Linked DNA regions of Homo sapiens: region 1 is linked to region 2. The links come from fine-mapping of genetic effects on gene expression. A gene starts in region 2. The other region holds a variant in brackets. All regions are shown on one strand. Distances are from middle to middle.

What was found.
Region 1: its variant is fine-mapped to the expression of DENND6A in whole blood (TOPMed, PIP above 0.99).

The regions. Positions count from the first base shown.
Region 1 is chr3:57,568,392-57,581,639 of GRCh38, reverse strand. It overlaps ARF4 (ARF GTPase 4), which reads left to right. Exons shown (of 6, transcript NM_001660.4): 4 at 4,253-4,324; 5 at 5,967-6,092; 6 at 9,342-10,277. The coding sequence ends at 9,428. It also overlaps a transcript of PDE12 not described here. Among named protein-coding and RNA genes, the nearest start is that of PDE12, 19 kb to the right of the region's middle. The variant A/C (reference allele first, on the strand shown) is at 3,708.
Region 2 is chr3:57,683,675-57,700,204 of GRCh38, reverse strand. It overlaps DENND6A (DENN domain containing 6A), which reads left to right and starts at 7,128. Exons shown (of 20, transcript NM_152678.3): 1 at 7,128-7,423. The coding sequence starts at 7,187. It overlaps DENND6A-DT (DENND6A divergent transcript), which reads right to left and starts at 7,000. Exons shown (of 2, transcript NR_135550.1): 1 at 6,863-7,000; 2 at 3,554-6,389. RefSeq lists silencers at 7,129-7,228, 7,339-7,578 and an enhancer at 7,300-7,800.

The sequences.
Region 1 (13,248 bases), 120 kb after region 2:
TAGTAGAGACGGGGTTTCACCATGTTAGCCAGGCTGGTCTCGATCTCCTGACCTCATGTGATCCACCTGCCTGGGCTTCCCAAAGTGCTGGGATTACAGGCATGAGCTACTGCGCTTGGCCAATATATTTTGAAAGAGTTAGATATGAAGTAAAACCTTGCTAATCCTTAAGCCTAATAATTCTTGACCAAGGGTAACCCTGGGTTTATCCCTAGATTTGTTTAGAATGCTTTGTAATTTACTTTGCATTCTTAATTTGAAATTAGACCCAATTCTGGCCTCTTTGGACCATCTGAGAATTAAAAGTCTAAGTACTGCTTCCTAGGGAGTTCATGCTAGCTGGGGAAAGCTTTATGTGTTACCTGATAGAATCAAAGCTAAGCTCTTAGCTTGCATTCCCAGCATTACTGATCAGTTCTCCTAGCTATAAAATTTAAAAGAAACTATAGCTTTAACCATGTTTCTAACTTATACTAACAAACCATGGCACAGTGTGTAGTAAATTCCTCTTATAATTCCAACTAATTTGCCATTGTAAATAAGTAAATATTTGGCTTTTCAAATAATTTCATAGCAGCTGGGCTTATCTGTAGAATCCTAGCTTTTCTTCACTCTTGATTCTAGGCTGTTCCAGGAAGAAAATAATTAGGGATTAATACCTAAAATAATTCTCCTTCTCAATAATGTCACTTTGGGACTGATAGCATTATTTGCATTTTAAAACAAAGGCTGGGTGCAGTGGCTTATGCCTGTACTCTCAGCACTTTGGGAGGCTGAGGTGGGAGGATCGCTTGAGCTCAGGAGTTTGAGGCCAGCCTGGGGAACATAGTGAGACCCTGTCTTTACATTTAAAAAAAAAAAAAAAGAATAAAAATGGGAAGTTAGCAGTCAAAATAAAATTAGGTCCCTTTTAGGGGCATTACCTCTTGTAAAGGGTAGGTTTCAGGACCGGGTGCTATGGCTTATGCCTGAAACACCAACACTTTGGGAGGCCATGATACGAGGATCACTTGAGGCCAGTCCAGGCAACAGAGTGAAACCCTGTCTCTACAAAAAAAAATTAAAAAAAAATTACCTGGGCATGGTGGCATACTCCTGTAGTCCCAGCTACTTGAGAGGCTGAGGTGGGAGGATCACCTGAGCACAGGAGTTGGAGGCTGAAGTGAGCTACAGTTGCGCCTCTGTACTCCAGCCTGGGGGACAAAAGGAGACCTTGCCTCTTTTTTGAAAAAAAGAAGAAACAAAAAAATGGAAGGTTTGGTTCTAAAAAGGAGTAGCTTTTGAAATATGGAAAGGAGGAGACATATTTGCTAAATAAATGCCCATGATAAGCCAAGAACAATGATCTTTTATATCTCTGTGATTGCATTTAATCTTTAACAAGCTTATGAAGTTAGTATTTTTATTTTATTTAGACGAGGCATAGTCAAGGATTAGATAATATATATAACAAGTAGTATAAGATTTGAATTTGAGTCTGTCTTCCCACCACACTATATTGGCTCCCAAAGCATCAAACATTATTTTTTGTTTTTGAGATGGGGTCTCACTCTGTTACCCAGGCTAGAGTGCAGTGGCATGATCATGGCTCACTGTAGCTTCAGTCAACCTCCTGGGCTCATGTGATCCTCCCTTCTCAGCTTCCTAAGTAGCTAGGACTATAGACATGTGCCACCATGCCCTACTAAAATTTTAATTTTTTTCGTAGAGACAGGGTCTTACTCTGCCCAGGGTGATCTTGAACTCCTGACTTCATGTGATCCTCCCACCCCAGCCTCCCAAAGTGGTGGGATTAGAGGTGCCATGCCAGCCAAAAGTTTTCTCAAAGGATAGGATATTTAAAGTGATGGTTTTCCAGGTGGTATAGATGCAGTGTAAAATAAAATTTAAAAATTAAGTTATGGTTTCCAACAGAGATAAAGGAAATGGACTTACAATTTGCTAAAACAAAGGAAATTGTCATTTAATGGATGTAAAATAAGTGTTAGATGCTCCTGGAGAGCCCAGTACTGTGGTAATCCTGAGAGGTAAACAGAAAATGATGTAGGATGGGGCTGGGCGCGGTGGCTCACACCTGTAATCCCAGCACTTTGGGAGGCCAAAGCAGGCAGATCACCTGAGGTCAGGAGTTCAAGACTAACCTGGCCAACATAGTAAAATCTCATCTCTACTAAAAATACAAAAATTAGCCAGGTGTAATGGTGGGCGCCTGTAATCTCAGCTACTCAGGAGGCTGAGGCAGGAGAATTATTTGAAACTGGGAGGAGGGGTTTGCAGTGAGCTGAGATGGCACCACTGCACTCCAGCCTGGGTGAAAAAAAAGATATAGTATAGTCCTTTGCCCTTAGTGGATGTAATCTAGTTCCTTTTTTTTTTTTTTTTTTTTGAGATGTAGTTTGCTCTTGTCGCCCAGGCTGGAGTGCAATGGCGCCATCTCGGCTCACTGCAGCCTCCGCCTGCCAAGTAGCTGGGATTACAGGTGTGCCACCATGCCCGGCTAATTTTTGTATTTTTAGTAGAGATGGGGTTTCACCAGGCTGATCTCGAACTCCTGATCTCAGGTGATCCACCTGCCTCGGCCTCCCAGAATGCTGGGATTACAGGCGAAAGCCACCTCAACCAGCCTCGTTACTTACATAAATCAGTAGTGCAAGACAATCTGTTATAAGTGACATGATCAAAATTGATACTTTAGGAGTCAAGGTTTATCTTTTTTTCTTTTTTATTATTTTTATTTTTGCCCCCCCCCTTTTCTAGCTGAAAATTCTATACTTTCCCATTTGAAAGTTCTTAGAAAAACAGTTCAACTAGTTGCTTCCTAATTCCTTCCATTTATTTTGTAGTATAGAATTCTAATAATGGGCCAGGTGCCATGGCTCATGCCTGTAATCCCAACACTTTGGGAGGCCAAGATGGGTGGATCACTTGAGTCCAGGAGTTCGAGACCACATGGGCAACGTGGTGAAACCCCATCTCTACAAAAAATAGAAAAATTAGCTAGGTGTGGTGGCACGCACCTGTAGTCCCAGCTACTTGGGAGGCTGAGGCGGGAGGATCATTTGAGCCCAGGGGGTCAAGGCTGCAGTGAGCCAAGATTGTGCTACTGTGCTCCTAGGCAACAGAGTTGAGACCCTGTCTGAGAAAAGAAGCTAATATTTGTATCTCTAAGAATTGATAACTACCTTCCTTTTTTTAAAGAATGTCTTACTCGATCAGGTAAATCTTGAATTTTTCTTTCTTTTTTTTTTTAAGAGATAGGGTTTTGACATATTGTCCTGGCTGGTCTCAAACTGCTGGGCTCCAGTGATCCTCCTGCCTTGGCTTCCCATAGTGCTGGGATTACAGGAGTGAGCCACTGCGCCCAGTCTTGGATTTTTCTTGCTATCATTTTCTTAAGATGTCTTCCTGATCTAGAGTTGGCAGGCAGCATTCTGAAGCAAGTTAATTTTTTCCTTCCATGATGAAGCAGATAAAAACTGTAGTGTACACACTCGCGCTATCCCACCCCCCTTTTATTACTCTGTACATGCCTTTGAGTCAGTAAGCTAATTCAGTTAGTAAATTCATGGGGTTTTTTTGTTTGTTTTTTGAGATAGGGTCTCGCTCTGCCACCCAGGCTGCAGTGCAGTGGTGCGATTTCAGCTCCCTGCAACCTCCGTCTCGGGCTCGTGATTCCTCCCACCTCATCTCCCAAGTAGCTGGGACTA[A/C]AGGCATGCACCACCACACCTGGCTAATTTTTGTATTTTTTTGTAGAGATGACCTTTCGCCATGTTGCCCAGGCTGGTCTCAAACTCCTGAGTTCAAGCAATTTCAGGCCTGATCGTTTGCCTCAGCCTCCCAAAGTGCTGGGATTACAGGATGAGCCACCATGCCTGGCCAAATTCACGATTCTTTAGGATCCTTGATTTGTTATTTTTCTTTTTGTTCCTACTTTGTGGCTATTTTGGTACCTGCACTTAAATGTGAGAGTGCAGAGGGAAGGGGAAAAATAGATACAATTTATTCTTAGGGTAGTTGAGAAAAGTAATTAATTGGTGAAGAATAAAAATTTTTTAGATTTGAAATAGCACTAATAAATTAAACTTACAAATAGTTCTCAAATCAGCTTTTAGCATTACAGCCTTAAGTTCTTACTTTTAAAGAGACATTTTCTTCCTAATGTCTAACCATTGGTACCATTTTGCTGCCTACACTGTTTCATATAGAGAGTGTCGTTTAACTGTTAAAATTTACTGAAACAATTTTTCCCCAGGGTCTTATTTTTGTGGTAGATAGCAACGATCGTGAAAGAATTCAGGAAGTAGCAGATGAGCTGCAGAAAATGGTAAGAAATATACTTTAAATTCATCATTTTCAAGGTGTGCTTTTCTGGATTAAACTGGTGGTGGTTTAGTACATTTTGACTATGATTAGATTACACAAATGGATTGGGGGGGCTAGAAATAAACTTAAGAAACTATATTATCCACAGGTTCTTAATAATGTACTTCAAAATCTCTTATAGAGCGTTTTAAAAAACACATGGAAGAGTAGCTACTTCAGTAAGTTGGGAGGAAGGCAGAGCAGTGTTGTTTTTTTTTTTTTTAGAATGCCTCATGGGTAATCTTGATGCCTATCTCTGGCTGAGGATATCTGATTTAGCTCAGTCCCTTACTTTACAGATATCAAATCTATAGTGCTGTAGTGGTTTTGACCCTAGGAATCTTGGTTCAGATGTTTTGTTCCCAAGGTCATCGGTTCCATTTTCTCTATGCTGTGCCAATAATTACTTCAGAAATGTTTTTTAATAGTAACCATTTAAGGATAAGGAATTCCTTCTGAAAGTAGAGACAAATGTTTGGTTCACAGTGGCATTTTGCAGCCTTCCCATAGATTGGATTAATGTTTTCATGTGTTCATGTTGTTAAATGTACTAAATGGAGGAAGACTGCTGAGAATCCTTGTCATGATTTTAAACTTGTAGCCATAAAATATTTACTGAAATGAAATCTTAATTCTTGTTCATTCCTCCTAAGATTAGAGGGCAGTTTGTAAAACCATTGTGCCAGTATATGTGTAACTAAGTCATTGTTGGATTTTTGCCTGAGTCAAATGTCACCAGCTTTCCCTCTTCAAAAAAAAAAAAAAAAAAAAAAGCTTGGTTGAGACATACTTCACACACTATAAATGTCATCCTTTTTAAATGTGCATATCAATGGCTTTTAGCATACATAGTTGTACAACCATCATCACAATCTAATACTAGAAAATTTTCATCACCCTCAAAGAAATCTTGGACCATTAGCAGTCATTCCCATTTCCTTCCTCTCGTACACCACACTCCCAGCCTCTGACAGCCACTAATTTGTCTTTATACAGTCACCTATTCTGGACATTCATATAAATGAAAACATACAATGTGTTCTTTTGTGACTGATTTTTTCACTTAGCATAATTTTTCAGGGTTCGTCTATATTGCATCATGCATCAGTACAACTTCTGTTCTTGGTACTTTTTTTTTGTATATTTCATGATACTGCCAACACCCAGATAATTGTGTTATTGTCCCACTGTTGTTGGAAAGGATAGAAGTCCGAAAAGAATCATCATCTATCTAAGTACTTCTGCTACTAAGTACCATAAGAACCTGCCATAAACATTTTATTCCCACATGTATTTCTTGCCCTTATCAGTCCTGACAATGGGTAATCATGAAGGCTGAATGATGAGTGATTTGCTTTAATTTAATGGGGTGTAGGATGATTGACTTGGAAAACAGTTCTGTCTTATTTGAAGGCATATGATTGTTTGCTCTGGATTTAAAAACTGAAGGATATGAGACTTCAGTTGTAAGAGTGAACTTTGTGTCGAGAAATTAGGTTAATGTTTAATAATGTATTTAATGCTGAGTAAAGTATATATAGGAAGACATTTTCAAAAATTGGATTCCGGTTGGTAGTTGTTAATGCCTTACCTTTTATTTCCAGCTTCTGGTAGATGAATTGAGAGATGCAGTGCTGCTACTTTTTGCAAACAAACAGGATTTGCCAAATGCTATGGCCATCAGTGAAATGACAGATAAACTAGGGCTTCAGTCTCTTCGTAACAGAACAGTAAGTATTTGGAGGTTGATATTAACCTCTTGACTATTAAGACTTACTAGGATAGTTGTGTAAGCTAATATTCAGTTTAAACATTTATTATCTCCTTTGGACAAATAATGAGCACATCATTTATTTAAAAATATGGTAATAAACTTTAAATACCTTATTTGATTTTTGTAAAGAAACGGAAAACTACTGTAGAATAGGTCTAAAGATTATTGATAGTTTCTTTTTTCTTTTTTTTTTTTTTTGAAGGGAGAGGTGGAAGGAATGGAAAGAAGATTATTGATAGTCTTAATTTTAATTTTGTATCTTTTAAGTAACCCTACAGCAAATATTTTGAAATCTGGCTTTCTTATTAAGGGTCCAGTAATGTTTGTTTGCTTGTTTTAAAAGTGGAGATGGGGGGCTGGGTGCGGTGGCTCATGCCTGTAATCCCAACACTTTGGGAGGCCTAGGTGAGCAGATCATCTGAGGTCGGGAGTTTGAGACCAGCCGGACCAACCAGGGAGAAACCCTGTCTCTACTAAAAATACAAAATTAGCCAGGTGTGGTTGCGCATGCCTGTAATCCCAGCTACTCAGGAAGGCTGAGGCAGGAGAATCACTTGAACCCAGGAGGTGGAGGTTGCGGTGAGTCGCGATCGCGCCACTGCACTCCAGCCTGGGCAACAAGAGCGAAACTCGGTCTCAAAAAAAAAGTGGAGATGGGGGGTCTCGCTTTGTTGCTAGGCTGGTCTTGAACTCCTGGACTCAAGCAATCCTCTCACTATCTCAGCCTACCAAAGCGCTGGGATTCCAGCCATGGTGCCCAGCCTTGTTTGCTTGTTAACATAACAGTTTATGGAGGAGACCAGGTACCACGGCTCACACCCGTAATCCCAATACTTTGGGAACCCAAGGCAGGAGGATTGCTTGAGGCCAGGAGTTCCAAACCAGCCCGGGCAACAAAGTGAAACCCTATCTCTACAAAAATAAAAATTAGCTGGGTGTGGTGGCATGTGCCTTTAGTCCCAGCTACTTGGGAGGCTGAGGTGGGAGGACTGTTTGAACCCAGAAGTTGGAGGCTGCAGAGAGCTGTGATTGTGCCCATTGCACCCCAGCCTGGGTGACAGAGCAAGACTGTTTCTTTAAAAAAAAAAAAAAAAATTTGTACTTCTCTAAAATTGCTTATCATTGATCAGTGATTCAGTGATGGAGATAAATTATCAGAAACTTAGTGTCATAGGCTTTTTACAGTAGTTTTGCATTAACCTGTAAATAAGGGAAATACTGTGGCTGTGGTAAAAAATGAAACAAACAACAAAGAACCTATTGCAGGCCGGGTGCAGTGGCTCACGCCTGTAATCCCAGCACTTTAGGAGGCTGAGGTGGGTGGATCATGAGGTCAGGAATTCAAGACCAACATGGCCAAGATGATGAAACCCCATCTCTACTAAAAACTACAAAAAAATTAGGTGCAGTGGCAGGCATCTGCAAGCCCAGCTACTCTGGAGGCTGAGGCAGGAGAATCACTTGAACCCAGGCAGCAGAGGTTGCAGTGAGCCGAGATCACGCCACTGCACTCCAGCCTGGGTGACAGAGCGAGACTCCGTCTCAAAACAAACAAACAAACAAAAAAAAACAACCTATTGCCTGTTTGAGATATCTCAGGCTGATTTGAAGAACATAAACTGGGCCGGGTGTGGTGGCTCACACCTGTAATCCCAGCACTTTGGGAGGCGAAGGTGGGCGGATCACTTGAGACCAGGAGTTCGAGACCAGCCTGGGCAACATGGTAAAACTCTGTCTCTACTAAAATTACAAAAATTAGCTGGTCGTGGTGGTGCATGTGTGTAACCCCAGCTACTTGGGAGGCTGAAGGCACGAGAATCTCTTGAGCCTGTGAGGCGGAGGTTGTAGTGAGCCGAGATCACGCCACTGCACTCCAGTCTGGGCAAGAGTGAGTACTCTGCCTCAAAACAATCAGTCGATCAATCAATAAATAAGCAAGCAACACTAACTGTAAATGATACAAGTTTTCCATGCTGTGAAGGTATGAATTTGAGCCTTTCCCCAGCCTCCTAGGTTACTGAGATTTGGTATTCAAATAATTGGCAACATGGTATACCTGCAGTGGCCTTGCAACATTAAACTGGTCAAAAAAATTAATAAAAGTAAACTATGCCTTAAATGTAAATTGTTTTCTAGGTTTTTTTTGATACTTTCACACAGTTACTAGAGATAAGATTCGTTGCCATTTAAAAGCAAGAACGTTTTGGAATGCATGAGACTAAAGATGGTGAAATTGTCTGAAAAGCTTGCCCTTAAAATATCAACAAACCCTACTCTTTCTTTCTTTCTTTTTTTTTTTTTTGAGATGGAGTCTTGCTCTGTCACCCAGGCTGGAGTGCTGTGGCACGATCTCGGCTCACTGCAAGCTCTGCCTTCTGGGTTCATGCCATTCTCCTGCCTCAGCCTCCTGAGTAGCTGGGACTACAGGCGCCCACCACCACGCCCGGCTAATTTTTTGTATTTTTAGTAGAGACAGGGTTTCACTGCGTTAGCCAGGAAGGTCTCGATCTCCTGACCTCATGATCCATCCGCCTCAGCCTCCCAAAGTGCTGGGATTACAGGTGTGAGCCACCACGCCCGGCCTAACAAACCCTACTCTTTCAAAAATTTGCCTCTTCTACTTTGAGTTTAGTTTTATGGGAAACGAGAGTTATAAAAACCAGATGGGTAGTTTATTAGTTACTAATTTCCCCATGATTTCTTTTTTCAGATTAAGTGGTAGAAAGTTTACTAAAAGGGAACCAAAAACCAGCACTGAAAAGAAAGCTGAATGAGGGGGGAAAATCTTGTCTAAATATAATGAATAGGTAGAAGTAGCTTGATTGATTGAGACGGAGTCTCACTCTGTCGCCCAGGCTGGAGTGCAGTGGCACAGCCTCGGCTCACTGCAACCTCCAGAATAGGTAGAAGTGGCTTTATTTTTAAAAAATAATTTAATCTAAAAAAGTAGAGACAAAGTCTCACCATGTTACCCAGGCTGGTCTCGAACTACTAAGCTCAAGTGATCCTCCCATCTCCGCCTCCCAAAGTGCTGGGATTTATAGGTGTGAGCCACCACGCCCAGCCAGAAGTAGCTTTAAATATGGGAGAGTTTTGTGAGATGCAAGAGGTGTGAAAAGACTCTTAAGTTTGATTAAGAAAGTTTAAACACTGGTGTTATATATTAACTTTGTTAATCAAGTATTTTCTTGTCTTCTCTTTACAGTGGTATGTTCAAGCCACTTGTGCAACACAAGGAACTGGTCTGTATGAAGGACTTGACTGGCTGTCAAATGAGCTTTCAAAACGTTAAATGAAATTGGATATCTAACCAAGGACATGTTTGATAAAATTGGTCTAGGCTTGTTACAACAAAATTAGTTTGTATCTTGGTTATTAAACAGTATCTGGGACTGGTTTGGGCAGAATATTAAACTTATTTTGTTGCCAATTATTGTTTACCGAGTATAATGTTGCTATTTAGCAATGTGCTTGGTTTTAAAGAAATTCTCCTTGGGAAAAAAGTATCCTCTTTTAATTTTACTTCCCATAAGCGTAAATGCCTGGACATAGCTCTTGTGCAACCTTTAAATAAATTGTTTTGAGTGTTTTTTGAGCCCCAGACAAATAATGTTTTAAAGTTATCCCCTTGCTACTTTACTGATACCTTTATCATTCCTGAGACAGTTTGCTAATTTAAAAATGTAGCATTCCATTTGTATTTATTTCTCTCCCTTGCCAAAAAGATTTTCTAATACTGCTTGTACCAGCCAGAGAAAGATCCAAAACACTACTCAGCTCTCTTGCACTGAGGAAATTTTTCCCCCTACATTGACTCCTGGCCTACATCAGCCAAACTTAACCTTGGTGGGGTTTGGATTTGATAGCCAATTAGTTCTGTGCTGGTTGCAAAGAATTGATATTTAGATGGTTTTTAATACTCAGCAGATTGTCTTCCTTTATATTGTGTCTTTTTTATGTTGCATGTTGCTTTTGTTATCAGCCTGATTTTTTGCTCAGTATATGATAGTTCTGCTGATGTTTTGTTTATTGGGCAGACATATCTTCATTAAGAGTTTTTGGAAAACTCATCAAATTCGATGAATACATTTTCTTCATAACCCATTTGGAATTATTCCTAATAAAATGATAAAATACGTAATTGTGTGTGTTCTTTTTGAGTTTTGAAGGTATTTGAAATGTATTTTCTTATGTAGCCAACTTTGCTTGCATATTTTATGTACTGTGAACAGTAACACAGATCCCACTGGTAGGTTACTAATTGTATAAAGTGGAGATCTAGATTGTTTTCATGTGTATAACAGCATGGGGAACACTATTAAAAACATAGTTTTCTAAAGTCAGATCAAGGGTAAAAGGAGGGCCTGGCATGGTGGCTCACGCCTGTAATCCTAGCACTTTAGGAGGTTGAGGCAGGAGGGTCACTTGAGAATAGGAGTTTGAGATCAGCTTTGGCAATGTAGTAAGACCCTGTTTCCCCTGTCTCTACTTAAAAAACTAAAAACAAAACAACAACAACAAAAAAATCAGGTGGGGGGTGGGGAGGGGCGGCATGTGGAGTGGGGTAGGGAGAGTAAAAGGCTGTAATAAAATGAACTGCCCAAAAAGCATGTATGTATGTGTTTTTTAGTTAAGGTTAATTAAACAAAAAAATTCAGGTGCTACTTGTATGGCCAATATAGAGACTTAGTGATGCTACTTTCCTACAAAAAAGTTTCACAACCACTTTTCTTTTTAACAGGGCAAATTTTAGAACTTTAACAGAAAGCTGCATATAATTCATACAAAGGTATACCTCATAAACTACATCTATTAAGTTTTAAGGGCTCAACTTGATAACTGAGTAACTTAGTTTCTGTCTATATTCTCATGTTGCATTCTTAATGGCTTGTAAAGATTCAGCTAAATTTATGGATTGAAAATTCCAAAATCAAATGCATACTTTTAAAAAAATGTATATTTTTGAATTGTCAAATAAATAACAATGGCCAGGCGTGGTGGCTCACACCTGTAATCCTAGCACTTTGGGAGGCCAAGGTGGGCAGATTGCCTGAGCTCAGGAGTTCAAGACCAGCCGCAACATGGTGAAACCCCATCTCTACTAAAAATACAAAAAAAAAAAAAAAAGGGTCTGGTGTGCTGGTGCATGCTGTGGTCCCAGCTACTTGAGAGGCTGAGGCAAGAGACTCGCTTGAACCTGGGAGGCAGAGGTTGCAGTGAGCCAACATAGCGCCACTGCACACGGTCTGCAAGACTCTGTCTCCAAAAAAAAAAAAAAAAAAAACACTGGATTAACCAAAAGGAAATTAGAATTGGTTGATGATTAGGTAGGGCAAAGTGTATGTTTAGTTTGTGTTACTTGTTAGAAATGCAATTTCCCTAGCCAACTGGATGAATTCTCCTTTCTTCCTTCCAAAGAAGACAGGTGTCATTTCCTATAGGATAAAACTGAACTATAGTATAATTGTTGTGTGTGTAGTCTTATGGGGCATCAACTAGGAAATATAAAACATCAGTGAATAAGTTCAGCGTTAGGGCTAGGTATTTAACCTAGTTATGCAAAGGTGTTTACATGGACTGTAAAGGGACTAGAGAATCTATGTAATCTTACTCGTGATGTAAAGCAGCTCTTAGTACCATTGGAAATTACCTTTTTTTTTTTTTTTTTTTTTTTGAGATGGTTTTACTCTGTCACCCAGGCTGGAGTCCAGTGGCAGGATCTTGGCTCACCGAAACCTTTACTTCCTGGGCTCAAGTGATCCTCCCATCTCAGCCCCACAAGTAGCTGGTACTACAGGCATGAGCCACCATGCCCAGGTAATTTTTATAGTTTTTAAAGAAAGTATTAGGCTGGGTGGGGTGGCTCACATCTGTAATCCTGGCACTTTGGGAGGCCGAGGCAGGTGGATCACCTGAGGTTGGGAGTTCAAGACCAGACTGACTAACAAACATGGAGAAACCCCATCTCTACTAAAAATACAAAACTAGCCATGCATGGTGGTGCATGCCTGTAATCCCAGCTACTCGAGAGGCTGAAGTGGGAGAATTGCTTGAACCTGGGAGGTGGAGGTTGTGGTGAGCCAAGACCGCACCATTGCACTCCAGCCTGGGCAATGAGTGAAACTCCGTCTCAAAATAATAATAATAATAAAGTATTAGCAACTTGACACATTTACCCCTAAAAATTATTTTTTCTTCAGTCTTTGTATTTTTTTTTAAAGTTCCTTTTTTTCTTTTTCCAAACAGAAGTGGTTTAAATGTTTTGGGAGAAAGTATTGAGAGATAACCCCTAGCCTTTCCCTGTTTTATGCAAACATAAAATCACTGTCACTGTCCTTATTTATTGAAGTATTATGAAATAGTTGATGCTATCAAGATTCAATGCTTACTGTTCATTCAAATGTTAAACCTACTGTTGGTCAAGCAATAAGAGTTCTCTGTGACCGCCCCTATTGTACAGAACAGTTGATTATATCCCTAGATTAAAAAGTATTCTGTCAACTAATTGTCAAATAATGTCAGTAGAGAAACTGAAGAGAAATTGTGATTCCCTTACAGGATCACTTGGCAGCATCAGAGTTGAGGATAGTACGATTATCTGCTCTCTGGTTCCCCTGTCCAATAAGCATTTTTTTTTTTTTTTTTGTCCATAACATTTCCCATTGTCTTTTGTCTCACTTTAACATAAGCTGCTTTTCTGTGATGTAATATCTTGATATTTTGTTAAGAGTTTCAATTTCCATGAAATTTTCCACTTACCTTATATACCCTCCATTGAAAATAAAAAAGGCATGGTAGCTCATGCCTGTAATCCCAGCACTTTGGGAGGCTGAGGCGGGAGGATCCTTTGAGGCCAGGAGTTTGAGACCAACCTGGTAAATATAGTGAGACCTCCATCTCTATTAAAAAAAAAAAAAAAAGAAGTGTATCTTTTGTGGAGAGTATTGGTGTCTCATTCAGACACTTCAGTTTACTTGAGTATACAGAATTATCTTTCAGGCAGTAGTAATTACTTTCAGGTCACTTACTATGATCAAACTTTTTTTTTTGAGACAGGGTCTCGCTCTGTCGCCCAGGCTGGAGTGCAGTGGCATGATCACAGCTCACTGCAG
Region 2 (16,530 bases):
GAGACGGGGTTCCTCCATGTTGGTTAGGCTGGTCTCGAACTGCCAACCTCAGGTGATCCACCTGCCTCAGCGTCCCAAAGTGCTGGGATTACAGGTGTGAACCACTGCGCCTGGCCTATTTCCTGGCACTTCTATGCCTTATAAGGAAAGACTACTAATTTACTGTGCATAATCTAAAGTTTTGTTTTCTGACTCCTTTTTATCTTTTCCTTCTATTCTATTAACCTATGGTGTTTTGTTTTCTGCTCTTGTCATGCTCTGCCTCAAGCAACCTCTTTGTTCTTCTTATTTGCTTCTTAGTCTGGGAAACCAGACAAGTAAATCTATTAAAATTATGTGTAAATTTATTATTACTTTTAAGGCTAGTCAAAGCAGTGGGAGTAGAAAAGGAACAAAGAAATCTCTAATTGGTTGCGCCACTGCACTCCAGCCTGGGTGACGGAGCAAGACTTGGTCTCAAAAAAAAAAAGAAGAAGAAATCTCTAATTGGTAGTGTTCAATTAGTTTCAATTAGTTGTAAACACCACTGCACTTGGACCAGCCAGAACTATGTGTAAACCTAGACAAAATAACTTATGAGTGAAGACCTCACATCTCTTTGATTGAAGAGTATGCATTTGATTATAGTCTCCGTTTTGCATTTTGGCTTATATTGAGCCTATTAAACCCACTTCCTAGTGCTAACTGCATCAGACAGTTGGAAAAGTAACCTTTATTTTTATTTTACTTATTTTTTTTTAATAGAGACAGGATCTTGCTCTGTTGCCCAGGCTGTAGTACAGTAGCGTGATCATAGCTCACTGCAGCCTTGAACTCCAGGGCTCAAGAGATCCTCCTGCTTCAGCTTCCCAAGTAGCTGGGGCTATAGGTGTTGGCTACCATGCCCAGCTAATGTTTTAAATTTTTTTGTAGAGATGGAGTCTCCCTATGTTGCCCAGGCTGGTCTCTAACTCCTCCCACAGTTTGGCCTCCCAAAGTATTGGGATTACAGGTGTGAGCCACTGCACCTAGCCAAAAAGTAACCTTTAAATAAGTGGAGTGTTATCTTTACTTTCTTAAGCTAAGAGTGCATTACACTTAAGAAACATTTTTATGTTAACTTTTCATGTATTCATACAAGTGACAGTAAAAGGAAAATTCTTTAAAATAAGGAAAGAGCAGTTCAAGATGCTTTTGTTTTGTTTTTTTTTTTTTTTGTTTTTGAGACAGAGTCTCGCTCTGTCGCCAGGCCGGAGTGCAGTGGCGTGATCTTGGCTCACTGCAACATCTGCCTCTTGGGTTCAGGTGATTCTGCTGCCTCAGCCTCCCAAGTAGCTGGGACTACAGACATGTGCCACCACGCCTGGCTGATTTTTGTATTTTTAGTAGAGACAGGGCTTCACCATGTTGTCCATGATGGTCTCGATCTCTTGACCTTGTGACCCGCCTGCCTTGGCCTCCTAAAGTCAAGATGCTTTTTTAAAGTGCATTCATGGCCGGGCGCGGTGGCTCACCCCGTAATCCCAGCACTTTGGGAGGCCGAGGCGGGCAGATCACGAGGTCAGGAGATTGAGACCATCCTGGATAACACGTTGAAACCCTGTCTCTACTAAAAATAAAAAAAATTAGCCAGGCGTGGTGGCAGGCGCCTGTAGTCCCAGCTACTCAGGAGGCTGAGGCAGGAGAATGGCGTGAACCTGGGAGGCAGAGCTTGCAGTGAGCCGAGATCGTGCCACTGCACTCCAACCTGGGTGACGGAGGGAGACTCCGTCTCAAAAAATAATAATAAAATAAAATAAAGTGCATTCATTCATTCATTAAATATTTACTGAGTGCCTGCCACATGCCAGGCATTGTATCAATAATAAGAATGTAAAAACGAAAACAAAAAAACAGCTCTTCATTATTTTTTCTTTCTTTCTTTTTTTTTTGGAACGGTCGAGGGGACAGCATCTCACTCTGTTGCCCAGGCTGTGCAGTGGTGCAATCACAGCTCACTGCTGCTTTGACCTCCTGGGCTCATGTGATCCTCCAGCCTCAGCCTCCTGAGTAGCTAGGACTACAGGTGTGTGCTGTCATAATTCTGGCTTTAAAGAATCCTCTTGCCTTGGCCTCCCAAAGTGCTGGGATTAGAGGTCTGAGCCACCACCACACCCAACCACCATTTTTTAAAGCTGTCACAACCTGGGAAAACTTCATAGTGCATTTTATTTTTTATTTTATTTATTTATTTTTTTTAGATGAAATCTTGCTCTGTTTCCCCGGCTGGAGTATAGTGGTGAAATCTTGGCTTACTGCAACCTCTGCCTTCCAGGTTCAAGTGATTCTCCTGCCTCAGCCTCCTGAGCAGCTGGGATTTCAGGCGGATGCCACTATGCCCAGCTAATTTTTATATTTTTAGTAGAGATGGGGTTTCACCATGTTGGCCAGGCTGGTCTCGAACTCCTGACCTCAAGTGATCCGCCTGCCTTGGCCTCCCAAAGTGCTGGGATTAAAGGCATGAGCCATGGCGTCTGGCCCTGATCGTGCATTTTATAGTTTTCTTTGGCTGGATCCTCCCTTCAAAATCTGTATTTGAGCATTTTTGTCTTCCAGAGAAGTACAGCAGTAAACTTAGTTTTCTATTGATAACACATTGGTATTGGGCCTCTGTGTATATTTCCATGTATTTTTTTCACCACCGCAAGTATAGTTATGTCCCAGCAGCCCTGGCAGCATTTACCTTAAGTGCAAGAGGGAAGTCCCCTGGCTGCCCATCTAGGTAAATATCTAGGACATTTGGACTCCCTGTGGGTCCTTTTGGTAAAACTAAGCCCAGAGACCTGATAATGCATTTCACAATTCACACCATTGTCTGATGCTCAACCTTTTATTTTTTCTTTCTTCTGTTAAAACTATTGAATTGCCAGGATTTTGGTTAGGGGTGAGTAGAGAAGTTTGGAATGTTTTTAATCCTGTGTTCCATGTTCTTGGTAATATTAGAAGAGCAGCAGAGCCATGAATCTAGTCATGCTCTTGGCTAACACAGTCTACCCTGACTTAAGTGCTCCTCACATGAAAAGAGATCCAGGGCTTTAGTTGACAGTAAATACAACCTGAGCCAGTGATGTGACCTGGCTGCCAAAACAAGTAAATGTGATATGAACTGGCATTAAAAGAAGCCTGGTGGCTGGGACAAGGAAAGGAATAGTCCCAGAGTACATTCTGCAATGTTAAGATCACACCTGGAGGATGGTATTTCCTCCCAGGCTGTAAGAGTGATGTTGACAAGTTGGAGTATGCCCAAGTTGGGCAACAGGATGATGAATGGCCTAGAAACTACATCTTTTGAGGAACGGTTGGAGGATGTGGGGTAGTTACCCTGAAAACTAGAAGGCATGTGGGTGTGGGATAACTATTTTCAAACGTTCGCAGGGTTATCATGTAGAAGAGTTGGACTCTTCTGTGTAATCTCAGCAAGCACAACTTAGACCAATGGGTGTGTATTACAAAGTAGCTGATTTTGTCTCTGTAAAGGGAAGAACTTTCTAGCCCTTATGAACACCCAGAAAATAGTAGCTCTGAAAGGTAGTTACTTAACTTTATTTATTTATTTATTTATTTATTTATTATTTTTGAGATGGAGTCTTGCTCTTGTCGCCCAGGCTAAAGTGCAGTGGTGCTATCTTGGCTCACTGCATCCTTCACCTCCCGGGTTTAAGTGATTCTCCCACTTTAGCCTCCCAAGTAGCTGGCATTACGGGAGCACACCAACACACCTGGCTAATTTTTTGTATTTTTAGTAGAGACAGGGTCTCACCACGTTGGCCAGGCTGGTTTCAAGCTCCTGACCTCAAGTGATCCACCTGCCTCAGCCTCCCAAAGTGCTGAGATTACAGGCGTGAGCCACCACGCCCGGCTATTTATTTATTTATTCATTGAGACGGAGTCTCCCTCTGTCGCACAGGCTGGAGTGCAGTGGTGTGATCTCAGCTCACTGTCACCTCTGCCTCCCCAGATCAGAGGATCCTCCCACCTCAGCCTCCCAAGTAGCTGGGATTACAGGTGTGCACCACCACACCTGGCTAATTTTTGTATTTTCACTAGAGACAGGATTTCACCATGATGGCCAGGCTGGTCTGGAACTCCTGACCTCAGGTGATCCACCGGCCTTGGCCTCCCAAAGTGCTGGGATCACAGGCTAGTGACTTAACTTTAATAGAGAGTGTTAGAAAAGAGGCTGGCTAACTGAATGTCAGAAGATCCATGAATAGGAAGTTTGGAGAGATGATCCTATCCAAGATCCTTTCAGAGTCAAAGGTTCTTTTGATGAACCATAAGAAGGTGTCAGTACCTTGTTCCTCAGCTCCCATTAACAACAGAAACTGTGTGAAAATAGACTGTAAGGCAGAATGTCAAAGTTACGAAGGTAGAGGGAAATAAAGCCATAGCTGCTTTGTTTACCCTAGTGGTTATTCTGTTTCTGTGTATAAAGATTTAAGTAATGCTTTTTTCTGTTTTTGTTTTTTTTCTCCCCAAACAAGTTTTTTACTTTCAAAATTCTCTAGAGCTTTGGTGTGCTTTCTTTCTTTGGAAACTTCTGGCTCTCCTAATATGTTGTTTTCAGGGTACTGTATTTTGACAAGATCATCCTTAACCCAATATTATAAAGCAACACTTCACAGAATCGCAGTTTGTGTCTATGCGTCGAAGAACCAGCCCTGTGGAACAACTTATGTTCTTTTTTGGTGCTGGTTTTTGACACAGGGTCTTGCTGTGTTGCCCAGGCTGGAGTAGAGTGGCACAGTGATGGCTCACTGCAGCCTTGACCTTCTCCTTAACCCAATATTATAAAGCAACACTTCACAGAATCGCAGTTTGTGTCTATGTGTCGAAGAACCAGCCCTGTGGAACAACTTATGTTCTTTTTTGGTGCTGGTTTTTGACACAGGGTCTTGCTGTGTTGCCCAGGCTGGAGTAGAGTAGCACAGTGATGGCTCATTGCAGCCTTGACCTTCTGGGTTCCAGTGATTCTCCTATCTCAGCCTCTCAAGTAGCTGGAATTATAGGTGTGTGCCACCATGCCCAGCTAATTTTTAATTTTTTTTTAAGAGACGGGGCCTCCCTATGTTGCCCAGGCTGGTCTCAAACTCCTGGACTCACGTGATTCTACCGCCTCAGCCTCCCAACGTGCTGGGATTACAGGTGTGACCCACTGTGCTTGGCCACAACTGGTGTTTTGAGATCATTAATAATTAATAATGAAGTAGCATCTGGTAAAATGTGTACATTAGGATAGCTTAGCTTTTCCCAACAGTCAGTGAGGTGAGTTAGTAATCATCACTCTCATTTACCAGAAACTGGGTTTTGGAGCAGCTTGCCTACCACGATCGTGGTAGATTCTAGCTGGCACTAGAATCCAGAACTTTTGACTTCCACGCCAGTGTTCTTTCTAATACAAAAGGCTACTGTTCTTTCCTAATACTGGGTTTAGAGCCTTACTTGATCGCAGAATACAGTTTTTCCTCTTTTAACCACAGCAGTTCTCTGGAGTAGGATGGCAGGCTACTTTGGCCAAAGACTTGGCCTCTAACTTAAGTGCTGTCCCTAAGTTCATTTTTGTCTAAAGGAAGTCTCCAGCAAACGTCACTACTGATGTCTGTGCATACTTGACCACCTCCTTGAAAACAGGGACGCTAACACTTGCTCCAAAAAAAAATTCTAAGAATGTTAAGAGGGCAGTATTTGTCAAATGGAATGGATTTCACTGGGCAGTGCAGCAAAATGCTTAAGTTCTGCCGTGTTTTTTGTTTTGCGTTGTTTTTTAGAGACACAGTCGCGCTCTGTTGCCCAGGCTGGAGTGCAATGGCTGTTCGCAGGCGCGATCATAGCGCGCTGCAGCCTGGAACTCCTGCTCAAGCGATCCTCCTTGAACTTAGCCGGCCTCAGCTTCCCAAGAACCTGGGACTACAGGCGTGACACCTCGCTGGTTTACTCATTTTTCTGTTGAGGTATTATTGTGTGTTTCCTACTTTTACTATGCTATTTATACTCAACATAGTAGGTGCTGAATAAATACTAGTTAGTATCCTGGCTGGTCCAATACTCAGTAAAAACTGATCTCAGAATACGAAGCTGCTTGAGACCAGGCCCTTGCCCCAGTGTTCAGAGATCCACAGGTTGCTGTGGAGGCCAATCTGCCCAACCTGGAGTTCCAGAAAGGTCTGGGGATGTGTGTTGAGTGAGTCACAGACAGCCAAACTAAGAAAGGAGGAGGTGGTAGGGTGGGGAGGCCTTGCTGGAGAAGGAACAGGTGAGTGAATGCACAGATCTCTGAATCAGCAAACTGAATGAGTGAACCGCAAGCCGATATCGGAGTTGTCATACTTGTTGGGCTAGTCATGTAACCTCCAGGACCTCCATTTCCTTATCTGTAAAAAGAAATAAATAGTCTACTTATTTGCGATTATGTGAAGATTCAATAAGGTAATATTTGTAAGTATTCGCACTTGTACTTGGCATATCAACTGGCACAAAGTAAGCGTTCAATGTTAGCCACCGTCACCATTATGCGTTCATATATTTTATTTTTATTTTTTTGAGACGGAATCTCGCTCTGTCGCCCAGGGTAGACAGAATACAGTGGCGCAATCTCAGCTAACTGTAACCTCCTGGGTTCAAGCGATTCTCCTGCCTCAGCCTCCTGAGTAGCTGGGATCACAGGCGCGCTCCACCACGCCTGGCTAATTTTTTCGTATTTTTAGTAGAGACGGGGTTTCACCATGTTGGTCAGGCTGGTCTCGAACTCCTGACCTGATGATCCGCCCGCATCGGCCTCCCAAAATGCTGTGATTACAGGTGTGAACCACCGCGCCCGGCCTACGCTTTCATAATTTAATAATACCTTATAATAATTATGAACTGTGTCATTCCACGAATAATTTATTCCCTGGTCGTTGACTGCGAACGAGGTTGACAAGGATTCATAAACAGCCATTTCAGTCCCAAAGAGCTTTTAGACAAGGAAGCCAGGACCGGCTTCACAATCCGAGACAAGCGGCAGCGTGACGTCCCCACGTCCGCTCCCAGGGTCACGTGACCCGCAGCCCCGCCCGGACTGAGTGGGTCCCCAGCGGCTGCGACAGCAGCGTCTGCGCCTGCGCGGAGGCAAGCGCGCTCTGCGGCGCGGTCCGCTGTGGAGGCGGCGCGAACGGTCAGGGGGCGGCCGATGGCTTTGAGGGGCCCTGCGGGCTTGGGGCCCGGCTCTCGAAGGCCGTTGGACGAAGCGGTGGCAGGGGCCGAGGGCCGCGAGGCGCCGGCCCTTGTGGCGGCGGGAGGCGCGCCAGAGGACGATGAAGAGGACGATGGCCGTGGCCGGGGCCTGCTGCGCTGGGACAGCTTCTCCGCCTGGCTGCACTGCGTGTGTGTGGTGGGCTTCGACCTGGAGCTGGGCCAGGCCGTGGAGGTGAGGCCCGGCCCCGCCCTTTCTCGGCGCTCCTCCCCTGCGCCGGGGCGGCTGCAGCAAAGCCAGCGGCCCGCGGGCTGACCGGCCAGGACCCTGTCCGCGGCGCATCCGGGCGTGGCCAGTCTCCCCTCCCGCGCTCTTTCGGGCTGCGGTCCTACGGCACTTCCCGTGGGAGGATCTTGGGCTGCGGCTAGGGGTGAAAAGTTCTCTCTAGGCCCCTCCTAAATACTTGTTGATGTTCATCCTGTTCTTTCTTTATTTCTTTTAAACGCAGAGTCACAGAATTAACTAAAAGGGTTAGTAGCACCCACCCGGAGAAGCCCGCAGGCAGGATGTTTGTTTGGTACTTTTTCAAGAACAATGCCCATAACAGATGATGAACTCTAGTAGCCGAACTTGCACAACCAAGTTTTAAGGCTCAGATTGTTTTAGTCATTTGCAGTAACTGTTTGAGCGTTTCCCTCAGCCTGAGTCGAAATGCTTATCTCAGCACGCATTTTCTCCCTTTCCTCCTTTTGTGCCTCATTTCTGTTTTTTTTTTTTTTTTTTTTTGAGACGGAGTTTTTGCTCTTGTTGCTCAGGCTGGAGTGCAATGGCGCGATCTTGGCTCACCGCAACCTCTGCCTCCCGGATTCAGGCAATTCTCCTGCCTCAGCCTCCCGAGTAGCTGGGGTTACAGGCATGCGACCATGCCCGGCTAATTTTGTATTTTTAATAGAGACGGGGTTTCTCCATTTTGGTAAGGCTGGTCTCGAACTCCCGACTCAGGTGGTCTGCCCGCCTAGGCCTTCCAAAGTGGTGGGATTACATGCGTGAGCCACCGTGCCCGGCCTCATTTCTGTTATTTTTTTTTATGTTGCCTCTGGAACAGTTGGTGTGAAACTACTGTCAAGATGAATATAGGGAACATCATTTGCTTGTCAATCAGTCAACTTTTCCATTCTTATGTATGGCCCCTTACCGAAAGGCTTTAGAAACATCTATTCTTGACGTTGTTGAAGGTCTTTTTAGCATAAGGAATTGCTTGCTTTCATGTGTCCAAGGAAATTGTTATCAGAAGGGCGTTTGTTTAGACGTTTTGGTTTTGGTTTTTTTTTTTTTTTTTTTTTTTTGGTATTGGTGACAGATTTCGATTTCATTAATACTGTAGTGGCCTGGTTGACTAAGAAAATTGGCTAGGGGTAGTTTTCTTAATGCGAAGCTACTGCTTTCGTATTCGGCCTGCCTTCTGGATGTTTTATTATAACACAGTTCAGCGACATTAAGTTTCCACTAAGAACCAGGCATTATGTTAGTTGTGGAGCATACAAATAGGATGTGCTCTAATCTGTATTTGTAGATTGAGGCAATAATTTAGAGGAGAACCAAGAATTAATCATAGTAGCTGATAAGGCCAAATGCAGTGCCTGGCACCTAGTGGCATTCTATAAATACTTTTGATAGAATAGGTGAATATGTGAGCAATTCTTTATCTTATTAAAGTAAGAAAAACAGTTCCCAAAGATTTTGAGTAAGAGATTTATAAGCCATTTATTATTCACCTTGCCATGTTAACCTGAAGTTATATGTACAGCAAGATACAATTTAACCAGAAAGCATAAGAATGGGTTGTTGTAGTTGATTGTGTTTTTAAATAGCTAAAGGAGATTCTTTTGGATTCTCATTATTTGGGACATTCTTTATAACGTGAATATGTTTTTTGACCAAATAAACAGAAAATATATTTGAGATGCTGCAAAAATGTGAATTATTAAAGGACTTATTTTGAATTTCATTTTCCATAGTGTATGCCACTGTATAGAGTTTTTTCTAGGTCAGGAGTTCTTAACCTTTTGCTTCCTGGATCTTTTAAAAATATGAACATTGTGAATTTTCCACTAGGAAAAGGCTGAGTAAGATGAAATCATGTATGTGGTTCCATATATGTGGTTTCCAGCTATTTAAGACATAAACCTAGTAGGGCTTCAGAAAATGGCTAGAGTTCAGAACCAGGGAAACCTCTTGGTTTTGCTCTTTTTTTGTGTGCAGATCTTGTTTATATTTCATGTTCCCTGCAAACTGCCTTCTTCCCCTTCTCTGATTTTTTTTTTTTTTTTTAAAGACAGAGTCTAACTTTGTCAGCCAGGCTGGAGTGCAGTGGTGTAATTTCGGCTCACTGCAACCTCCACCTCCCAGGTTCAAGTGATTCTCCTGCCTCAGCCTGCCAAGTAGCTGGGACTACAGGTGCATGTCACCATGCCCAGCTAATTTTTGTTTTTTGAGAGAGAGAGTCTTGCTCTGTTGCCCAGGCTGGAGTGCAGTGGGGCAATCTCGTCTCCCTGCAAGCTCCGCCTCCCTGCAAGCTCCGCCTCCCAGGTTCACGCCATTCTCCTGCCTCAGCCTCCCAAGTTGCTGGGACTACAGGCACCCGCACCACGCCCGGCTAATTTTTTGTATTTTTAATAGAGACGGGGTTTCACCGTGTTAGCCAGGATGGTCTCGATCTCCTGACAGTGTGATCTGCCCACCTCAGCCTCCCAAAGTGCTGGGATTACAGGCATGAGCCACCGCGCCTGGCCTGCCCAGCTAATTTTGTTTTTTTTGTTTTTTTGTTTTTTTTAGTAGAGACAGGGTTTCACCATGTTGGCCAGGCTGGTCTTGAACTCCTGACCTCAAGTGATACACCTGCCTCAGCCTCCCAAAGTGCTGGGATTACAGGCGTGAGCCACCGCACCTGACTTTTTTTTTTTTTTTTCCTTAGAGACATGGTCTGCCTCAGATTGGAGTGCAGTGGCATGATCATAACTCACTACAACCTCGAACTCCTAAACTCGAGGGATCCTCCTGAGTATCTATGAATACAGACATGCACCACTACACCCGGCTATTTTTAATTTTTTTTGTGGGGACAGGGTCTTGCTATGTTGCCCAGGCTGGTCTCAAACTTGTAGCCTCAAACTGTCCTGCTGCCTCTGTCTTCCAAAGTGCTGGGATTATAGGTGTTGAGCCACCATGCCCAGCCCTTCTCTGATCTTTAAGGTGAGAAGCTAACGTTTTTAGCCACTTCAGTGAAAAAGAGTGAATCTTTAACTCACTTCCAAAGCCAGAGGAAGATAATCTGGCCTGGTTTGGGGCAGGTTCCTACTCTGATACAATTGGCTAAAGCCCTGAGTAGAAGGGGGAGTGGTTCACCTTGCATAAAATGTCTTTTAAGGCCCTGTCCTAAGTGAAGGGGGTTAAGGAGGTCTTTGAGCTAGGAAGAAACTGAACAAGGTGTTGACTGCAGGGGGTGTGCTGAGCTTCTTTTCCCCTGAAGTGGCTCTGGAGGCATTACCACAGAATCAAAGTGTCCTCTGGAACAAGGTTTGAAACCTCCTGGGTTTGATATACTGTACCTCACTTTTAGCTTTGAAATTACCAATTATTTAGTAAAGCCTTAATTATCCGAATACAGAATTACCTTATTTATTCAAGTTTTTTTTTTTTTTCTGAGTGAATAATAACATACTCATTGCTGAAAACTTGGCAAGTAAAGAAATCATAAACACTAGGCCGGGCATGGCGGCTCATGCCTGTAATTCCAGCACTTTGGGAGGCCGAGGCGGGCAGATCACGAGGTCAAGAGATCGAGACCACCCTGGCCAACACGGTGAAACCCCGTCTCTACTAAAAATACAAAAATCAGCTGGGCGCAGTGGCATACACCTGTAGTCCCAGCTACTCGGGAGGGTGAGGCAGGAGAATCGCTTGAACCTGGGAGGTGGAGGTTGCAGTAAGATCGGGCCACTGCACTCCAGCCTGGCGACACAGCAAGACTTTGTCTCAAAAAAAAAGAAAAATTATAAACACTAGAAAATATCACTCTTAATTCTACTAAGAGGCAACTGCTATTAATATTCGGCATTTTTGTTAATACTTTTTTTCTTTATATAATTTTGTATCTGTCAAGGATTAACTTGATTGTTAGGAACAGAAACCTCAAATAAACTTAAGTAAAGGGACAGTGATTGTAAGGATTCCAGGCAGTCTTTTGGAATCCAAGTGTGTGGGAAGCAAGGATGAACCTGTGGGATTTGGAAAGCCCCAGGCCTTTGTCTCTGGAGCTGTGTGTTTTTTTTTGTCTTTGGTCTTTGCATGTCTGTTCTTTTCTCCATGCTGAAGCTGGTTTGTGCTGCAGTGGCCTCAGTTTCTGCTCCCCCGTTACTCTGCTTGACTTTGGGTTTCCATGGTACTAATTTTAGCCAAACTCTTTTTCTGGAATGAGGCTGAAGCTTAATATTGGAGTATCTGATTGGCTCAGCATGGGACAGGTGTCCCATTTTGTTCACTTGTGGTTAGGAGACAAGGTTTCGCTAGCAGTAGCAGTCACTTAGGCTCACCCCTGCAATAGGAGGGACACTTCCAAAGCATAGTCTGGGCAGCAGTCTCCTAAACATGTCTACTGTGAGTCTGCTTTTATTCATAAATATTCTCATAAACAGTTTGTAAGATGATTAGACTCTTAATAAGCCGAGTGTGGTGGCTCATGCCTGTAATCCAAGCACTTTGGGAGGCTGAGGCGCGTGGATCACTTGAGGTCAGGAGTTCGAGACCGCCGTAGCCAACATGGTAAAACCCCATCTCTAATAAAAAAATACAAAAATAGGCAGCTTGGTGGCACATTCCTGTAATCCCAGCTACTCGGGAGGCTGAGGCAGGAGAATCGCTTGAACCCGGGAGGCAGAGGTTGCAGTGAACTGAGATCATACCACTGTAGTCCTGCCTGGGCAACAGAGTAAGACTTTGTCTCAAAAAAAAAACAAACCCAAAAAACAAAAAACTCTTCATAAATATAATTTTACAAAGCAGATGTTCTTTTCTTTTTTTTTTTTTTGAGGTGGTCTTACTCTGTCACCCAGGCTGGAGTGCAGTGATGCAATCATGGCTTACTGAAGCCTTGAACTCTCGGCTCAGGTGATCCTTCTGTCTCAGCTTCCCTGGTAGCTGATACTGCAGGCATATGCTTATGCACCAGGCTAATTTTTAAATTTTTTGTAGAGATGGGGTCTTGCTTTGTTGTCCAGGCTGGTCTCAAATTCCTGGCTTCAAGGGATCCTCGTGCCTCCACCTCCTAAAGTGCTAGGATTACAGACATGAGCGACCACACCTGGCTGTCATCCTATCCTTTGAAACTTTGAAGCCAGGTATTGACTTTTCTCTAGCTATGAAAGTCTTAGAGGGCATAGTCTTCCAACAGAAGGCTATTTCATCTACAATGAAAATCCGTTATTTAGTGTAGCCACCTTCATCTTTTCTCTTAGATTTTCTGGATAACTTGCTGCAGCTCTCTATCAGTCCTTGCTGCTTCACCTTGCACTTTTATGTTATGGAGACAGCTTCTTTCCTTAAACCTCATGAACCAACTCCTGCTAGCTTCCAACTTTTCTTCTGCGGATTCATCACCTCTCTCAGCCGTAACAGAATTGAAAAGAGTTGCGCTCTTGCTCTGAATTAGGCTTTGGCTTAGGGAATGTTCTAGCTGGTTTGCTCTTCTATCCAGACCACTCAGACTTTCTCCACATTAGCAGTAAGGCTGTTTCACTTTCTTATCATTGATGTGTTCACTGGAGTAGCATTTTTAATTTCCTTCAAGAACTTTTCCTTTGGCTGGGTGTGGTGTCTCAGGCCTGTATTCTCAGCGCTTTGGGAGGCTGAGGCAGGAGGATTCCTTGAGCCCAGGAGTTCAAGACCAGACTGGGCAACGTGGTGAGACCCTGTTGCATAGAAAAAAAGAAAGAAAAAAAGAACTTTTCCTTTGCATTCACAAGTTGGCTGTTTGGTCCAAGAGGCCTAGCTTTTGGCCTGTCTCAGCTTTTGACATGCTTTCCTCATTAAACTTAAATCATTTCTAGCTTTTGATTTAAAGTGAGAGATGTGTGACTCTTCCTTTTACTTGAACACTTAGAGGCCATTATAGAGTTATTCATTGCCCCAGTTGCAAATATTGTTGTGTCTTACGGAATAGGGAGGCCTGAGGAGAGGGAGAGAGATGGGGTAATGGCTCGTCAGTGGAGCTGTCAGAACACATGTATTTATTGATTAAATTTGCCATCTTATATGGGCATGGTTTGTGGTGCCCCCAAACAATTACAATAGTAACATCAAAGATAACTTATCACAGACCACTGTAACAGATACAATAGTAACAAAAAAGTTTGAAATATTGTGAGAATTACCAAAGTGTAACACAGAGACACAAAGTGAACACATTGTTGGAAAAATGATGCTGATAGACTTGCTTAATGTAGGCTTGCCACAAACCTGTAATTTGTAGAAACTGGTAACTGCAAAGCACAATAAAATGATGCACAATAAAACAAGGTATGCCTATATTAATAAAAGGAGAAGGAAGAATGGTATTGGAAGGCAACAAGCATTTACTGCCTTACCTGAGAGCAGTTATAATCTTATGTAATCAAAGATTTATTTTGAAAGATTTCTAAGCTTGGGTTTTATGATATAAACTTTAGTAACTTTGAGCTGTTTGAGAGCCAAGGGTATATGTGCCTGAAAATTCTACACCATTATGTAACTTTGAAATAAAGGATTATGTTCTGTTTTACCTGGGATATGGAAATATCTGTTAATGCTTATTGAAAATGAGGCTAAACATTTATATCTTGGTAAATTTAGGCTATTTTTGTATTATTGGGATTCTATTTATTTTGTTCTTCTTATCATAAGAATCATCTGGGGCATTTGTTACATATGAGGATTCTGGGGCTCACCCATCTGCTTAATCAGAATCAGTTCCAGAGGATCATTATGTGTAGGCATGTTTGGAGTATGTTTTTTAATTTTCTCTTTATATAAACTTTTCTGTTTTTCTTGTAAACCAGCTGTTGTCAAAATGTGGTCTGAGGACTTCTGGGCATCTCTGAGACCGTTTCAGGGGATTTATAGGATGTTTTCAAACTATGTATGGCTTTTCTTCATGTTCTTCAACCAGAACAACATATTGCAATAGAATGAACATAGAATGATTCTGCCAAGAGCAAACATTAAAGAAAAACAAATTTTTTTTTAAAAAAAAAGAATGAATGCTGAAGCAGATATGAGAATCTAGTTATTTCTGTTAAATCAGACATTAAAGATATTTGCAAACATGTAAACAATGCCATCTTAGTAAGGTTTTTGTTTTGTTTAGGAATACAGGTTGTGTGTTCCTAATCTAAACATTCAAAATCTGAGACGCTCCAAAACCTGAAACTTTCTGAGTACTGACATGATGCTTTTTAAAGGAAATGCTCATTGGAGCATTTTGGATTTCAGGTTTTTGGATTTGGGATGTCCAACTGAGTAAGTATAATTCAAATATTCTAGAATCTGAAAAGATCTGAGATCCAAAACACTTCTGATCCCACCAAGCATTTTGGATAAGGAATACTCAACCTGAATATAGTTACTTTTCATAAAAATTGAATATGTTAATGAGTAATAGGTTATTATTTTAAAATAAATAAACAATTTTTTTTAATGATACTTTTAGTTTCTACAGTGGTGAATGTTGATAGATATAACTCATATAAACAAGAATTCTAGGCTGGACGTGGTGGCTCACGCCTGTAATCCCAGCACTTTGGGAGGCAGAGGCAGGCAGATCTGCTGAGGTCAGGAGTTCGAGACTAGCTTGGCCAACGTGGTGAAACCCATCTCTACTAAAAATACAAAAAAAAAAAAAAATTAGCCAGGCATGGTGGCGCATACCTGTAATCCCAGCTACTCTGGAGGCTGAGGCAGGAGGATCACTTGAACCAGGGAGGCGGAGGTTGCAGTGAGCCGAGACTGTGCCATTGCACTCCAGGTGTGTGCCACCATGCCTGATTAAATTGTTTTATTTTTGTGTTGCCCAGTGTGATCTTGAACTCCTGGACTCAAGGGAACCTCCTGCCTCCACCTCCCAAAGTGTTGAGATCCCAGGCATGAGCCATTGTACCCAGCCTCATTTATTCCTTTCCGTCACTAATTATTAAGTAATATTTGGACTTTATTTATTTATTTGAGACAGGGTCATGCTGTGTCACCAGGCTACAGTGCACTGCAGCCTGGACCTCCCAGGCTCAAGCAATTCTCTCACCTCAGCCTGTCAAGTAGCTGGACTACAGGTGTGTACCAACATGCCTGGCTACTTTTTTGTTTTTTTGTAGAAACAGGGTTTTGCTGTGTTGCCCAGACTGGTCTTGAACTCCTGGCCTCAAGTGATCTGCCTGCCTCAGCCTCCCACAGTCCACCTGCCTTAGCCTTCCAAAGTGCTGGGATTATAGGCATGAGCCACCATGCCTGGCTTTAGACTCTTTTCTTGAAACAGAGTCTCGCTTTGTCACCCAGGCTAGAGTGCAGTGGCACGATCTCAGCTCACCGCAACCTCTGATTCCCAAGTTCCAGCGATTCTCCTGCCTCAGCCTCCTAAGTAGCTGGGATTACAGGCACGTGCCACCGCACCCAGCTAATTTTTGTATTTTTAGTAGAGACGACGGGGTTTCACCATGTTGGTCAGGCCGGTCTCAAACTCCTGACCTCGTGATCTGCCCACCTTGGCCTCCCAAGGTGCTGGGATTACAGGCATGGGCCACCGTGCCTGGCCCATAAACTCTTTTTTTTTTTTTTTTTTTGAGACGGAGTCTCACTCTGTCACCCAGGCTGGAGTGCAGTGGCACAATCTTGGCTCGCTGCAACCTCCACCTTCTGGGTTCAAGCAATTCTCTGCCTCAGCCTCCTGAGTAGCTGGGATTACAGGTGCCCACCACCACACCGGGCTAATTTTTGTATTTTTAGTAGAGATGGGGTTTCACCATCTTGGCTAGACTGGTCTTGAACTCCTGACCTTGTGATCCACCCGCTGCGGCCTCCCAAAGTGCTGAAATTACAGGCATGAGCTAAACACTTTTTAAATAAGGGAACTGGAACTTAAAGAGGTAACTTGCCCCATATCACTTGCTTAATAAGCCAGGATTTGAACCCTGGTCCTTTTGATTCTGAAGCCTAATTTCCCCCCACTATACTGTGTTGTTTACTATTTAGGGAAACTGAAGCAAAGAAGATGTGAAATGCTAGCGGTAGCTTGAACTAAAATTCTTAAATTCTTGGTA